Linked DNA regions of Homo sapiens. The protein of the gene in region 1 purifies or fractionates together with the protein of each later gene. This does not show direct contact. Each region holds a gene or a part of one and is shown in the gene's direction. Other genes may lie near its edges. The genes, in order: SMO and PTCH1.

What was found.
Region 2: the proteins of SMO (region 1) and PTCH1 purify together in Homo sapiens (affinity purification with western blotting; 2 studies listed by BioGRID and IntAct, with this or other methods). This does not show direct contact.

What each region holds. Positions count from the first base shown.
Region 1 is NC_000007.14:129,205,484-129,212,746, forward strand, and holds part of SMO (protein smoothened precursor), read left to right. Parts: intron 1-126; coding exon 127-299; intron 300-666; coding exon 667-886; intron 887-980; coding exon 981-1,104; intron 1,105-3,275; coding exon 3,276-3,368; intron 3,369-3,805; coding exon 3,806-3,914; intron 3,915-4,879; coding exon 4,880-5,065; intron 5,066-5,481; coding exon 5,482-5,630; intron 5,631-6,152; coding exon 6,153-6,287; intron 6,288-6,540; coding exon 6,541-6,968; 3' UTR 6,969-7,263. UniProt on the Homo sapiens protein: G protein-coupled receptor which associates with the patched protein (PTCH) to transduce hedgehog protein signaling. Binding of sonic hedgehog (SHH) to its receptor patched prevents inhibition of smoothened (SMO) by patched.
Region 2 is NC_000009.12:95,506,013-95,513,430, reverse strand, and holds the start of PTCH1 (protein patched homolog 1), read left to right. Parts: upstream 1-4,164; 5' UTR 4,165-5,069; coding exon 5,070-5,270; intron 5,271-5,390; exon of another isoform or gene 5,391-5,497; intron 5,498-6,003; exon of another isoform or gene 6,004-6,202; intron 6,203-6,231; exon of another isoform or gene 6,232-6,494; intron 6,495-6,831; coding exon 6,832-7,024; intron 7,025-7,418.

The sequences.
Region 1 (7,263 bases):
GCAAAGAGGTCTTGGTGGGGGTCCCCAGGGAAGGGTCATGATCAGAAGGGTCTGGGGCTCAGTTAAGGGTGTCTGTGTCAGCAGAATAACCCTAACCTCACAGAATGGCCCACTTCTCTCTTCTAGGCCACATTCGTGGCTGACTGGCGGAACTCGAATCGCTACCCTGCTGTTATTCTCTTCTACGTCAATGCGTGCTTCTTTGTGGGCAGCATTGGCTGGCTGGCCCAGTTCATGGATGGTGCCCGCCGAGAGATCGTCTGCCGTGCAGATGGCACCATGAGGCTTGGGGAGCCCACGTAGGTGTCTTGGGGACCCAGAGGTGAAGGTACAGGGAGGAAGGCTGAAGTGTGCGTTTACCCCAAAGGGAGCAGGTGCGTGTAAAACCGAGATCCAGGGCAGGATCTGGCTCTGCCCTACTGCATACTGCATGCAAGATCTCCAGTGTTAGGATCTTAGTTTCAGAATCAGGACCTTCATGGTTTGTATCTGCTCAAAGGGGCGGCTCCTAGAGCCTCCTCAGATCTGACCTGGGTCCTGTCTCCAAGCCCTGACTTCTGGGAACCTCCAGACCTCAGCAGCTGAGGGTCTGGGCACAGGGTGGGGAGACCAGGTAGAGGGAGTACAGAGTGACCGCCTCAAGTGACACCTCACCTCTCTGCACAGCTCCAATGAGACTCTGTCCTGCGTCATCATCTTTGTCATCGTGTACTACGCCCTGATGGCTGGTGTGGTTTGGTTTGTGGTCCTCACCTATGCCTGGCACACTTCCTTCAAAGCCCTGGGCACCACCTACCAGCCTCTCTCGGGCAAGACCTCCTACTTCCACCTGCTCACCTGGTCACTCCCCTTTGTCCTCACTGTGGCAATCCTTGCTGTGGCGCAGGTATAGTGACTGGTAGGAACGGGAGACCTGGATGGGGTGAGTTTGAGGGAGGGGGCCAGTAACCCACCTTCTGTCCCACCCCTTCCTGCTGCAGGTGGATGGGGACTCTGTGAGTGGGATTTGTTTTGTGGGCTACAAGAACTACCGATACCGTGCGGGCTTCGTGCTGGCCCCAATCGGCCTGGTGCTCATCGTGGGAGGCTACTTCCTCATCCGAGGTGAGTGAAGACCAGGCCAGGACCAGTTGGGCAACAAAATATACTGGGCACTTGCTGCCAGTACTGGGAGCTGCCAGCACGGCTGCCCCCATGCTGAAACCCCAGCTAGCTCCTATAGGGCCTTCACACAGTAGAAGGTGACCCTCTAGGCAGACGAAACACCGTGAGCACTTGCTGCGGGACAGCACCTTTGTACTGGCCAGAAAAATCCATCCCTCTCTCCAGGGCCTTGGCCCAGGGCTCACAGCTTGTTTTTTTTGTTTGTTTTTGTTTTTGAGACAGAGTCTAGCTCTGTTGCCCAGGCTGGAGTGCAGTGGCACAATCTTGGCTCACTGCAACCTTCGCCTCCTGGGTTCAAGTGATTCTCCTGCCTCACCCTCCCCCATAGCTAAAATTACAGGCATGCACCACCACGTCTGGCTAATTTTTGTATTTTTAGTAGAGACGGGGTTTCACCATGTTAGCCAGGCTGGTCTTGAACTCCTGACCTAAAGTGATCCACCACCTCAGCCTCCCAAAGTGCGGAGATTACAGGCATGAGCCACAGTGCCCAGCCTCACAGCTTGTTAGGTGGAGTTGGGTCAGGATCCAGCCCCAGTCAGCTCCTGGCCGGTGCACTTGTGTGATGAACACCCTGAGTAACCTACTCTGCCCACTTGGACCAACCTAGGTCGTTTGGTTATCTGTGTGCACATTAATTCGATATGTACTGTCAATCTTCTGGAGCTTGGTTTTCATCTTCTTTCTGTCCCCGGCACACACAGCTCTCACAGCATGCGTGGAATTAGTGGTCCCTAACTTTCCTGTCTCATGCTGCCATCCCATAGTAAGCCTCAGCATCTATTTAGCTCATTGTTGTTGGGTTTTCTTTGTAAACCTCAGTTTCCTCACCCTGAACTGCCAGCCTTCTGTTCAGTCACCTCTTTCCCCTCTTTTTGGCATAGTGTCTGGCCCTCTGATTTGTGCTTCGTTATCATGCTGTCCTAGTATGGTAATCACTAGCCACATGTGTTGAACTAGTCCAGCCTGGGTGCGGCGGCTCACTCCTGTAATCCCAGTACTTTGGGAGGCTGAGACGGACGGATCACTTGAGCTCAGAGTTCGAGACCAGCCTGAACAACATAGTGAAACCCCATCTCTACAAAAAATACAAAAGTTGCCTGGGCAGGGTGGCACATGCCTGTGGTCCTAGCTATGTGAGAGGCTGAGGTGGGAGGCTTGCTTGAGCCCAGGAGGTTGAGGCTGCAGTGAGCCATGATCTTGCCACTGCACTCCAGCCTGAGTGACAGAGTGAGACCCTGTCTCCAAAGAAAACAAGACAACAACAAAAAGAAACAAGTCCAAATTGAGATGTGTTGTAAAATGTGAAATACACACTGTATTAAAAAAAAAACTTAGTGGGAAAAAAATGTAAAATATCTCATTAATAATTTGTTACATGGATTACATGTTGAAATGATTTTATTTTGAATATATTAGGTTTGTAAAATATATTGATATTAGTTTTGCTTGTTTCTTTTAACTTTTTTTAAGTGGCCACTAGAAATTTGCCATATGTATGTGGCTCACATATTTCTATGGGAAGGCCGGCATGGTGGCTCACACCTGTAATCCCAGCACTTTGGGAGGCCGAGGTGGGCAGATCACCTGAGTTCAGGAGTTCAAGACCATCCTGGCCAACATGGTGAAACCCCATCTTTACAAAAATACAAAAATTAGCCGGCGTGATGGTAGGTGCCTGTGATCCCAGCTGCTTGGGAGGCTGAGGCAGGAGAATTGCTTGAACCTGGGAGGCGGAGTTTACAATGAGCCGAGATCACGCCATTGCACTCCAGCCTGGGCGACAGGGTTCCATCTCAAAAAAAAAATTATATGGATAGCGCTGTTCTTGAGTCTGTTTTATGTCTTTCCCATCAGAACAGCTTTGATCTGCCCCCTTCTTCAGGGGCAGCTGGGCCACGACCGAGGCTCCCTCTTCTCAAGTGTCTGTCTAGGCTCTGCCCTGGTCTTCTCACCATTTCTCCAGTGTCTCTAGCTCCCCAGGTTTTCATTTAGCACAGGGGTAATCAGACTTGGGACTCCAGAGCCTTAGGACCCTCCTCCCACTCACCCATCCTTCCCAGCAGGGCAGCCTCACCCCTGCTAATGTCTGAGGTCCCCCTTCTGTTCAGGAGTCATGACTCTGTTCTCCATCAAGAGCAACCACCCCGGGCTGCTGAGTGAGAAGGCTGCCAGCAAGATCAACGAGACCATGCTGCGCCTGGGTGAGTGGCCCCGGGGGACTTCGGTCTGAGGTCCTGGCCAGCCCAACACTGCACCCTCCTGGGGCTATGCGACCGGCAGGATGCAGTAAGTCAGTGGGACAAGTTAGCCATAGGGACAAGGACAAGGGGTGTGTGTAGGTGGTAGTGGTAGTGGCAGCTCAAAAGAAGGGGGTCTACTCGGGGGGAAGAATTCAGTCAAGTTCATGCCGGGACTGGTTCCTCCTGCCCACTACGTCCCACGTGGTCCCTCCCACAGTTGCTTCAAGTGCCCTTCTTATTTTATTTTAGAGAAAGCAGTTCTTGGACTGAGCCCAGCATGAGTTCACCCCAGCCCCAGCTGGGTGAACTTTGAGGCCCAGTGGGGCAGACTCTCTCCTCCCCACTGCTGCTGCGGGACTGGGCTTGGTAACGTCCTGTCCTGCCCCTGTCCTCCACAGGCATTTTTGGCTTCCTGGCCTTTGGCTTTGTGCTCATTACCTTCAGCTGCCACTTCTACGACTTCTTCAACCAGGCTGAGTGGGAGCGCAGCTTCCGGGACTATGTGCTGTGAGTGAGGGGCATGGAGGCGGCAGTGCTGGGAGCTGGAGCCAAGGCCATAAAGACACCCACCTCCACCCACCGGGCAGCAGGGATTTGCCAGGTCCCTGCTGCAGACAGCAGATTCAATGGATGGTGTCTGGGTGCATAAGGCATCAGTCTCCGTAGTTTCTCAAACGTGGCAAACAACCTTCGCATCCCTTCTCACCTCTGCCCTTCCCTCTCCACCCCCTTGGTTGCCCAGCTGGTGCATGTGTGACTGTTAAGCAGCCAGTTCAGCTTCGTCTTCTCTGACTGACACTAAGTTGCCCTCTAATTCTGTGTGCTCTCCTGCAGAGCCTGCTTTAGATCCTGGCACAGGACTAGTTACCTCTCTGTGATAGGTTAATGACCTGCTAATGTTGGCTAGTTTTTGCCTGTGCTTTTTTGTGTCATAATGAGGATGGATTGGAGAGAGTAAGACATTGCTACTGCTGAGAGAAGCGCAGTACCCACTGTTACAAGGACAGTCGCTAAAATGGATGCTAGTCCAAGCCCTGACTGCTTCAGGCTCTTCCGTAAAGGTTCCGGCTTCCAGTCTGGGATGCTTTAAACCACAGTGATGCCTGAGTCTCTGCCCCAGAGATTCAATTTAATTGTCTAGGGTGGGTCCCAGGCATCAGTAGCTATTAAAAGCTCCCCAGTTGATTCTAATGAGCACCCAGGGTTGAGATCAGTGCTGTGGAGCTTAGCCCTTTCTAAAGTTTTTGGATTGATTGTCTGAGTCTACCCAGTAGACTCAGAAAACCCCACCTGTAGTCCCAGCTACTTGGGAGGCTGAAGCAGGAGATTGCCTGAGCCCAGGAGTTGGAAGCTGCAGTGGGTTGTGATCACGCCACCGCACTCTAGCCTGGGTGACAGAGCAAGATCCTATCTCAAAAAAAGAGAGAGGAAAAGAAAGGAAAGCCTCACCTGTCTACGTTCCCTCACTGTAGATGTCAGGCCAATGTGACCATCGGGCTGCCCACCAAGCAGCCCATCCCTGACTGTGAGATCAAGAATCGCCCGAGCCTTCTGGTGGAGAAGATCAACCTGTTTGCCATGTTTGGAACTGGCATCGCCATGAGCACCTGGGTCTGGACCAAGGCCACGCTGCTCATCTGGAGGCGTACCTGGTGCAGGTGGGCATGGCAGCCAGCCCCTCCTGCCCTGCCCGCCTCACCCTCAGCCTTGGGACCCCATCTTTAGGTTTTGTCGGGTCCTGCCTCTAGCACAGCCTTGGTCAGTGGTTCACCGCTGCCCCCTGGTGGCACCTTCTGTCCTTGGGTGGCCTGATGCCTGGGCCTGGGCCTGGGCCAAGGGCAGAGCCAGCTGCCATCACCTTTTAAGAGCGGAGTGATTGGAGGGCTGGGCACACAGGAGCTCTGCATTCTGGCCCCACTTCTTTGCAGAGAAGGCCTCTACTCCTGAGTCCTTGAAGGACTTGAGGCCCTTGGGAGCCTCCTTCTCTGGAAAGAATGGCATCGCTGGCCCTTCCCAAGATTTGATGGGAAGTGGCAGCTTCTTCACGCTCCTTCCCTATCCCTTCTGCTCTCAGGTTGACTGGGCAGAGTGACGATGAGCCAAAGCGGATCAAGAAGAGCAAGATGATTGCCAAGGCCTTCTCTAAGCGGCACGAGCTCCTGCAGAACCCAGGCCAGGAGCTGTCCTTCAGCATGCACACTGTGTCCCACGACGGGCCCGTGGGTGAGCCTCACCCCTCCTCTACCGGAGCCGCCTGGCCCCGCGCTGCCCATGTGCTAGTCTCTCCCAGCCTGCTGGGGGCACACAGATTATTTGGAAGACCGACTGTGAGGAGCAAGGCGCTCCCTCCATCGCTCACACACCCATTCTTCCCCCGGCCCCTCCTACCCTCTGGGGGGCTCTCCCCTCTCTGTTTCTGCCCCTGGGTCTGCTTGCCGGTGCTTGGGTTCCAAGAAGACTCCCCTCCCTCTCCCTTCTCATAAATTCTCCAGTTGCTCTCCCTGGGCAAGAGTAAGTCAGGGTTCCAAGAACTGGATTTCTGGCCTCCAGTTAGGCCCTTTGGGGACGTGAGGCCCTTCTCTTCAGATTCTGAAGGGGTAGAGATCACCGTGGTTACAGGGTGAGCTTTCTCTGGTGAGCAGGAGGGACTGGCTGTGGGAAGATGAATGGCACTGACTATGGGAGGCACTGCCAGGGACCGGGAAGTCACTATTCCTTCTCCTTTCCTTCCTTCCATTCCCACAGCGGGCTTGGCCTTTGACCTCAATGAGCCCTCAGCTGATGTCTCCTCTGCCTGGGCCCAGCATGTCACCAAGATGGTGGCTCGGAGAGGAGCCATACTGCCCCAGGATATTTCTGTCACCCCTGTGGCAACTCCAGGTATGAGAGTTCAAGCTTCTGGAGGAAGGTGGGGGGAGCACAGAGGCTGGGGGCTTCTGGGACTGGAGTACAGGGGCTGTCGGAGGAGGAGGAAGAGGAAGGAAAGGCCCCAGAGGATCTGAAGAGTGGGGCTGAGGCTCTAAGAGTCTAGAGACCTGGGCCCCAGAACTAACAGGTTAAGTGCTCCCAGGGGAGCGGGGGTGGCATGGACAGAGCCAGGGCCCCAGGCTCGTGTTGTCTCTCCTCCTGTCAGTGCCCCCAGAGGAACAAGCCAACCTGTGGCTGGTTGAGGCAGAGATCTCCCCAGAGCTGCAGAAGCGCCTGGGCCGGAAGAAGAAGAGGAGGAAGAGGAAGAAGGAGGTGTGCCCGCTGGCGCCGCCCCCTGAGCTTCACCCCCCTGCCCCTGCCCCCAGTACCATTCCTCGACTGCCTCAGCTGCCCCGGCAGAAATGCCTGGTGGCTGCAGGTGCCTGGGGAGCTGGGGACTCTTGCCGACAGGGAGCGTGGACCCTGGTCTCCAACCCATTCTGCCCAGAGCCCAGTCCCCCTCAGGATCCATTTCTGCCCAGTGCACCGGCCCCCGTGGCATGGGCTCATGGCCGCCGACAGGGCCTGGGGCCTATTCACTCCCGCACCAACCTGATGGACACAGAACTCATGGATGCAGACTCGGACTTCTGAGCCTGCAGAGCAGGACCTGGGACAGGAAAGAGAGGAACCAATACCTTCAAGGCTCTTCTTCCTCACCGAGCATGCTTCCCTAGGATCCCGTCTTCCAGAGAACCTGTGGGCTGACTGCCCTCCGAAGAGAGTTCTGGATGTCTGGCTCAAAGCAGCAGGACTGTGGGAAAGAGCCTAACATCTCCATGGGGAGGCCTCACCCCAGGGACAGGGCCCTGGAGCTCAGGGTCCTTGTTTCTGCCCTGCCAGCTGCAGCCTGGTTGGCAGCATCTGCTCCATCGGGGCAGGGGGTATG
Region 2 (7,418 bases), on another chromosome or scaffold:
AAAATACTGTAGGACTTAAAATCATGTTTGCAATTCCTTGTATTTCTGGAAGAGTATTAAACTCAGTAGACAAAATTATAAATGGCCCCAGGGTCAAATTACTGGAATACATTAACCCCTTTATTCATTTATACTCTGCAAAACTTGCCAAATTACATTGGATTTTAAAGACTCATTTGGTTTGATCTGAGAAACCAGTGAAAAGTTAAATCTCACTGTGGTTTTTCATAACTCCACCAAGTCTGGCTTCCACAATTGCTTACCATTGGAACATCCCAACACAAAGGGCAGATGTTTTATTTCATTGTCATCATTTGGATAATCTGATGTCATTTTTGAAATGTGTGTGGTGTGGCCATGGATATTTGTAGTATTGGAACAGAGAAGGGAGGAGATGTGAGGGAATCCGGAGAGCTTAAGGCATCTGCTTTGAAAACTACACACTCCAATGAGAAGTCTTGGATCATGACTGGGAGACCAAAATGACAATTTATGCATTGAGATGAACTTTACTTGGAAAGGGGAAATGGAACACTCAGCTGTTGCTTCATAAAGGCTGGCAACTCCTGCTGGCTGATAAGGCCCCAAGTTCTCACTTATTTTTATTTGGTAACTGTCACAAGGGGTGCCAGAGGCAGAAGGGCCATTTAAAGGGACTGTCTTCCCGGAGGACACCTTAGCAGGTCTGGCTGCCCCAGTCTGCATCTCAGATCTGTGGAATCCTTGTGGTTAGTTGAAGTTAACAAACCCGGTGTGGCACAGCAGTCCCCTGCACAGGGCATGCATATTAAAGCCGACAATGCTTACAAATGTAAATAAGGGCAGATTGATTAGGAACAACATTATCGCTGGGAATGTCGCACTCGCATGCATCAGCAATGAGGCAAATTGGGGGCAGCCTCAGCCCTGACCACCCAAGTCGAGCAGGCTTTTACACTGGCTCCTCTTCCCTTTCTTAAAACGTTACAGAAACAAGGCCAATTAGATCCTCAAAGTAATTCATCTCTAAGTATGAAAAAAGCAGACCACAGGGGAAGCGGCGGGTGGGGGGTGGGGAGATTAAGATAGCGCTCGTTAGAGCCGAGGCTCCGGAGTGCGTCCTGGAACCCACGGGTAGAATTTACAGGCCGGGACCATTGTCTGAGATGCTGAAAAGTTAACCCATCAAACAGCGGGCGAGGGGGCTCAGGGCACTGAAAGCTCCGGGGATCAATGTTCAAAACGTTTAGGAATTAAGTCAAACTAAGGGATATGGGCCTGAGTGGAAGAGGCTTTGCCACTGAAATGACGTGCATGTGGCAGCCGCCGGAACCAGAGGACATGCAGCCGCGTGCGGAGAGTGAGGCGGATCCATTACGGGCACACAGCTTACCATTTCCTTCCAGAATTCCTTCTTCCAAACAAGCTATACTGAAATCCCTCTAGTAAAAGATTGAGACGAAACACTAATAGTTTTGGGCCAAAACGTGGTGGAGAAGTTTGAAAAGACAAACATAGCAACGTGTCTTTGGCTATATGGTTCCTTGCCCTCCAGCAAGCTTGAAATATAAAAAGGCTAACATGCAAAACTAGGGGTACTACCCCCCTCCCCCAGTTTTTAAAAAGCAATTTCCAGAAGCAAACACACAATGGTTCGACTTGAAGTGTCGGCATAACCATTCAGTAAGAAAAGCTAGAATAGTAAACCTCTTTTCCTGTTTTGTGCTATTTATCAAACCTAATAAACATCAGGATCGTACTCAAAGATGAAACTGGCAATGTGTGGAGCCGTCTGAGCTCTTTATCAACTCAGTGTCATTTTCCTCGCATGCTGCCCGCCTGCTTTCCGAGTTTCCGCAGCCCTTCCCTGAGGCACTCACAAAATCACGTGCTCCTTAAGCGGTCTGAGTTTTGAATTTCCGCGCTGGCCCGGTGCTCAGGTCCCCCTCCGGATCCCGCGAACGCCCCCAAACACCTCCACCCCGTCTCCCTCTCTTCCTCGGGACATCCCGCCCTGACCCCGGCACCGCATACGGTTTGCGGGTTAGGGGGTCGGGGGAAGGGCCTCCCCCTGAAGCCGGGGAGGAGGAGAGGCTGGAGGGAAGGTGGCCAGGCTGGTGGGGGAGGGGAGATTGAGGGAGGGAGCGGGGCGAGGGAGGAAGGAGAAGGCGCAGGCCGAAGGAAGGAAGCGGGGAGGGGAAACCGCCGGGGAGGAAGGAAGGGGGCGGGGAGAGCCGGCGGACGGGCCCCCTGCGGGAGCCGCGTGGACCGCCCCGGTGGCCGGCGCGCCCCGCCGCAGCCCCCAGCGCGCCCGGGCAGCCAGCGCGGGGCCGCTGAATGGGCAGGGACTCGTGAGCGCGACCATTGGCCGGTCGCGGGGAGGCGGCGCGGGCATTGGGCAGCGTAAGGGGGCCGGTCCGCCTTCAGGAATGTACTACGGCGCGTCCGGCACGTCCGTCCGCGCCGGCTGGGCGCGCGCCTCGCCTGGGCTCTCGGGAGACCGCGCTGGAGGCCCGGAGCCGGCCCGGCGCATCCGCCTCCCTACCTACTCTGCCCCGGCCGCGCGGGCGCGGGGAGTCCGGGAGCCGGGCGCGCGCGCGCACCGGGCCTCCTGGCGCGGGGTCACGTGGCCACCGGAGCTCCGCCTTCTCCCTGCTCCTCCCCCTTTCCCTCCATCTGGGTTTCTTTCTTTCCTTTCCTTTCTTTCTTCTTTTTTTTTCAATGAACATACACCGTGCGCATCTTAAAGCCACACCGCCCCATTTCACGACTTCACTAGACTTCTCGCTACTGCCAGTCCCTCTGCAGTTCAACCCCGTTTAAAAAAAAAAATAAAGTGAAGCAAATCAAGGGTTTGCGGGTCGGGTTCCTACCGCAGGGAGGAACGTAATAACTTGGAAACGTAAGAAAAACACATTCCACTTTCCGAAAACAAAAATTTTTTTAAATAAAAAGCCTAGTTGTGTAGACGTGTCTGGCTCCAGAATCCACCTCAAAGGGTCGCGTGTTTTCCCCCTCCGCGGGAAGCGAATCCCCGGGATGCCTTGGTGACACTGGACGCGGTGTCGGGACGAATCCTCGCGATCCGCGCACAGTTTGTTTTCAATGAATCCAGCATCGGGGCATTTATAATCTCCTACGTCATACTATTATTAAATATAACATGCATACCGAGTTTTGTAAAAAAAAATACTGACTATATAAACATCTGGTTAATAAAAAGGGGTGTACAAATGAACCCAAAATAATCAGGAAAACTTTACTCTCTCAAGGAAACAATTCCGTTTCTCTAAGTTGTAAAAAAAGATTCTGTTGTTTCTCTTTTACTTATGTCACATTCGAGATTCAAATAAAAACGCCTCTGCCTCTACAAGACTGCTTCGGTGTCTGGATTCCACGTTTATAGAACACTGACTCCTTCAAACCAAGACTGTGTTTTTTTTTTTTTTAAGTTGGGGGGAGAAAGCGGCTGGGGGGCAGACGGATTTTAAGAAAGATGGCTTTTCCCAACGTCCTTGCTTTCCTCTTTAACTTTCCATTCTGTTTATCTTAATGCGAGGCGTTGTTCCCTGCAAGAGCCTAAGTCTTCCCTTTAGTTATAAAAGAAAAGAGAAGAGGAAAAAAAAATCTGGCACACACTGGCGCACTATCCAGCACGCTGTCATTATTGGTGCAGGCCTGGGAATGCGAGCCGGACCTCCCAGTATTTGCTGCAGCTTGAGGCCAAGGTGCCTCTGAAAGGCTTTTCTTTGAGGAATTTCAGAAATTGTTTAAGCGCTTAAAAAAATATTACATTTCCCCCCGTGTCTACCGCGAGGCAAATGTTCGTGTGTGTGCGTGCGCGCGCGTGTGTGCGCGCAAAGGCATCCCACAAAAAGAAGACACTGTTGAAAAGAAAAGGAATAAGAGAGAAAGGAGGGGGAGCATTCCTTAATGGAAGTATTGCATGCGAGAAGGTTGGCGCTCTCAGAGGCTGCCCCGAAGCCGAGGATGCACACACTGGGTTGCCTACCTGGGTGGTCTCTCTACTTTGGTGAGCTGTTGCTAAGCAGCTAATAATAGTCATGTTTGCTGAGTAATTTCTGCCCTCCGCGAGCCAATCGCGTCGCAGAAACCCAAGCCATCTGACAGCCCCGGGGGCGGGAGCTCCAGCCTTTTTCTCTTTCGCTCGCTCTCTCCCCCTCCACCCCCTCCCCTCCCCTCCTCCTCTTCTTTCTCCAAATGGAGAGAGTTCTTTTTTTTCTTCTTCCATCTCATCTATTGAATCAAGGAGCTGCTGCGGCCGCTGCCCGCTGCACACACACAGAGCGGAGTCCCCAGGTCCCGGGAGCGAGAGAGGCGCGCTGCACGGGGACAGAATGGTCCAGCGGGTTGCCGAGGAGCACAAGAAAGCAGAGTCCGGGACCGAGCAGCCACCGCGAACCCAGCAGCCAGAGCCCGAGCAGCCCGAGCAGCAGCTCCTGGAGCCGCCACCGCCAGCAGCAGCCACCGCGGGAGCAGCGGCAGCTGCGGCTGCCCGGGCCCGGCAGCGCTGAGACCCGCCGGGCACCCTCGGACCCCGCGGCGGCGGCGGCTCTGCGCTTGCCCTCCGCGGCCGCTCGGGCGACCCGGGAGGCGCCGAGAGAGCCAGCGCGGCCGGCGGGAGCAGCGGGGATTCGCTGGCTCTTTCTGCAGTGAAGGGGTCGCGGCGCGGGGCGGGGGGCGGGTAGGGGGAGTTGGGGACCGCAAGGAGTGCCGCGGAAGCGCCCGAAGGACAGGCTCGCTCGGCGCGCCGGCTCTCGCTCTTCCGCGAACTGGATGTGGGCAGCGGCGGCCGCAGAGACCTCGGGACCCCCGCGCAATGTGGCAATGGAAGGCGCAGGGTCTGACTCCCCGGCAGCGGCCGCGGCCGCAGCGGCAGCAGCGCCCGCCGTGTGAGCAGCAGCAGCGGCTGGTCTGTCAACCGGAGCCCGAGCCCGAGCAGCCTGCGGCCAGCAGCGTCCTCGCAAGCCGAGCGCCCAGGCGCGCCAGGAGCCCGCAGCAGCGGCAGCAGCGCGCCGGGCCGCCCGGGAAGCCTCCGTCCCCGCGGCGGCGGCGGCGGCGGCGGCAACATGGCCTCGGCTGGTAACGCCGCCGAGCCCCAGGACCGCGGCGGCGGCGGCAGCGGCTGTATCGGTGCCCCGGGACGGCCGGCTGGAGGCGGGAGGCGCAGACGGACGGGGGGGCTGCGCCGTGCTGCCGCGCCGGACCGGGACTATCTGCACCGGCCCAGCTACTGCGACGCCGCCTTCGCTCTGGAGCAGATTTCCAAGGTGCATTTCAGACTCTCTCCTCCCACTTTCTCTTCCCTCCTCTAACTCTTTGGGATCGCCCCCGCCACACACAAACACACACACTCTCTTCCTCTCTCTCTCACACACACACACACACTCACTCACACCTCTCCAGGAAAAGCAGCAGACAAATGGGGATTGAAAAATTCAAACCCTCCCTCTGGTCCTGGGAGGAAAGGGCTGTCTGAGGTCCGCAGGGGGTGGAGGTGTGTGTGTGTGCGTGTGTGTGTGTGTATACACACGCCCTCCCTGGTGTGCCTTTTCCGGAGCACTGGAAAGCCGTCCACGGCGGACCACCTCAAGGGCGGCCGCGGCACTGTCCTGCCCCGTGCCCCCTGCCCTGAACTTCTTCCTCCTGCGCCCCTGCCCCTATTTGCAGCCTAAACTCCTGTACGGCTGCCACATTTCTTAACATCTTGGAGGGGGAGGCGGAGTGGAGAGAGGCGGAGAGAGGAAGGGGGGAGGGAGCCGAAATAAAGGTGGTTTCCTTTTTTGGCAGCCAGTTTTGGTTTTGTTGAGCATGAAATCTCTGCTCCCTTAAAAAATTATTCTCGGAAAAAGATATCCCCCCCGTTTTCCAGGTTTTGAGCCGCCTCTCCTTAGGGCCTGGTCGGGGGAGGAAAAGTTGTAAACAAATTGCCACCTTAAATTCGCGGTGCGAGTCTGCGGAGCTGCCGGGTTCATTGTGTTTACGAGGCTCGCTGAAATGTGTGGAATCCAGGGAAGGCGAGCACCCAGACGGGGGCCCGCCGGGGCCGCGGCCAGCGCCGGGGAAATGCCGCGCCGGGGAGCAGCCTGCGCCGGCCTGAGCCCTTCCCTTTGCACTCGGCTGTTTTTTACGTTTAACCAGAAAGGAAGGGAGAGGAGGGAAAGATCCATGTGGCTGCCCTCTTCCGATCACAAATATTGTCGTAAGTTGCAGCTGGCTGCCCCACTTCCTAATTCAGCTCACACAGCCTCTCCCCACGCTATGGAAATGCGTCGGGAGTGAACTCCGGCGGCCGCGCTCACCACGTGGATCCCCACTTACTACCATTCTCGGCGGGGGTCCAGTTGGGGGAACCCGCAATATGTTGTTCCAAAGAGCGCTCGCCCCTAGCGCCCGTCCCCGAGGGTGATGGACAGAGCAGGACTGGTTTGCTGGCTCCTGAACCTTGGGCTCCATCGCTGGGATTACGCAGCCCCTCCCTTCTCAGCTCTGGGGTGAATATTGTCTGTGTCGAGTGGTTTCTCTCCTCTCTACCTCGGCTTCCTCTTCTGTATTGCAGCCCCAGTGCCCCAAGTCGCTCAGGGATCCCGCGGGTGGGGGCGCCCTGATGTCCCCGAGGTGCAGCTCCCACGCTGCGGCCCGGCTTTATGACCGAGCCCCCCATGACGCTCAGATCCGCCGGGGCTGCAGTCTCGAGGGCGAGTCCGTGTGCCGCGGCCACCCGCGCCCCCACGGCTGTTGGGGGCTCACCGGGCGGGTGCGCGCAAGCGGGCGTGGGCGCGCGGGCCGCGACTCCCCGGCGCTCACTCCTCCCTTCTGCTTCGTCCCCAGGGGAAGGCTACTGGCCGGAAAGCGCCGCTGTGGCTGAGAGCGAAGTTTCAGAGACTCTTATTTAAACTGGGTTGTTACATTCAAAAAAACTGCGGCAAGTTCTTGGTTGTGGGCCTCCTCATATTTGGGGCCTTCGCGGTGGGATTAAAAGCAGCGAACCTCGAGACCAACGTGGAGGAGCTGTGGGTGGAAGGTAAGAGCGCCCGCCGCGGCGCCCGCGCCCCCGGCCCGGTCCCTCCTCGCGGTTGATAGAGATATTCGCCAGCGCACACCTAGAGCCTGGCTGCGGCCGGCGAAACCCCCTGCCCGCACCCGGGGGATTGTTTATTGTTTGGGCGCCTGGCCGGGAGCCAGGCCCGCCCGACAAAGGCCGCGCTGTAATCTACTCGGGGCGCTGCGCCGGCCGAGGTGTGGTGGGAGAGAGCGGCGGGGGCGGGACGGGGGCGCGGGGCCCCTCCGGGACGGACCACTCTGCGCGCCGGGGGCCCCGGGCCCGCCGCCGCTGCCGCTGTCCGCCTGGGCCGCGCCCCGAGAGGCGCCCCGGGGCTGGCCTCTCCCGGCCCCGCTCCGCGGCCCGGCTTTCTTCT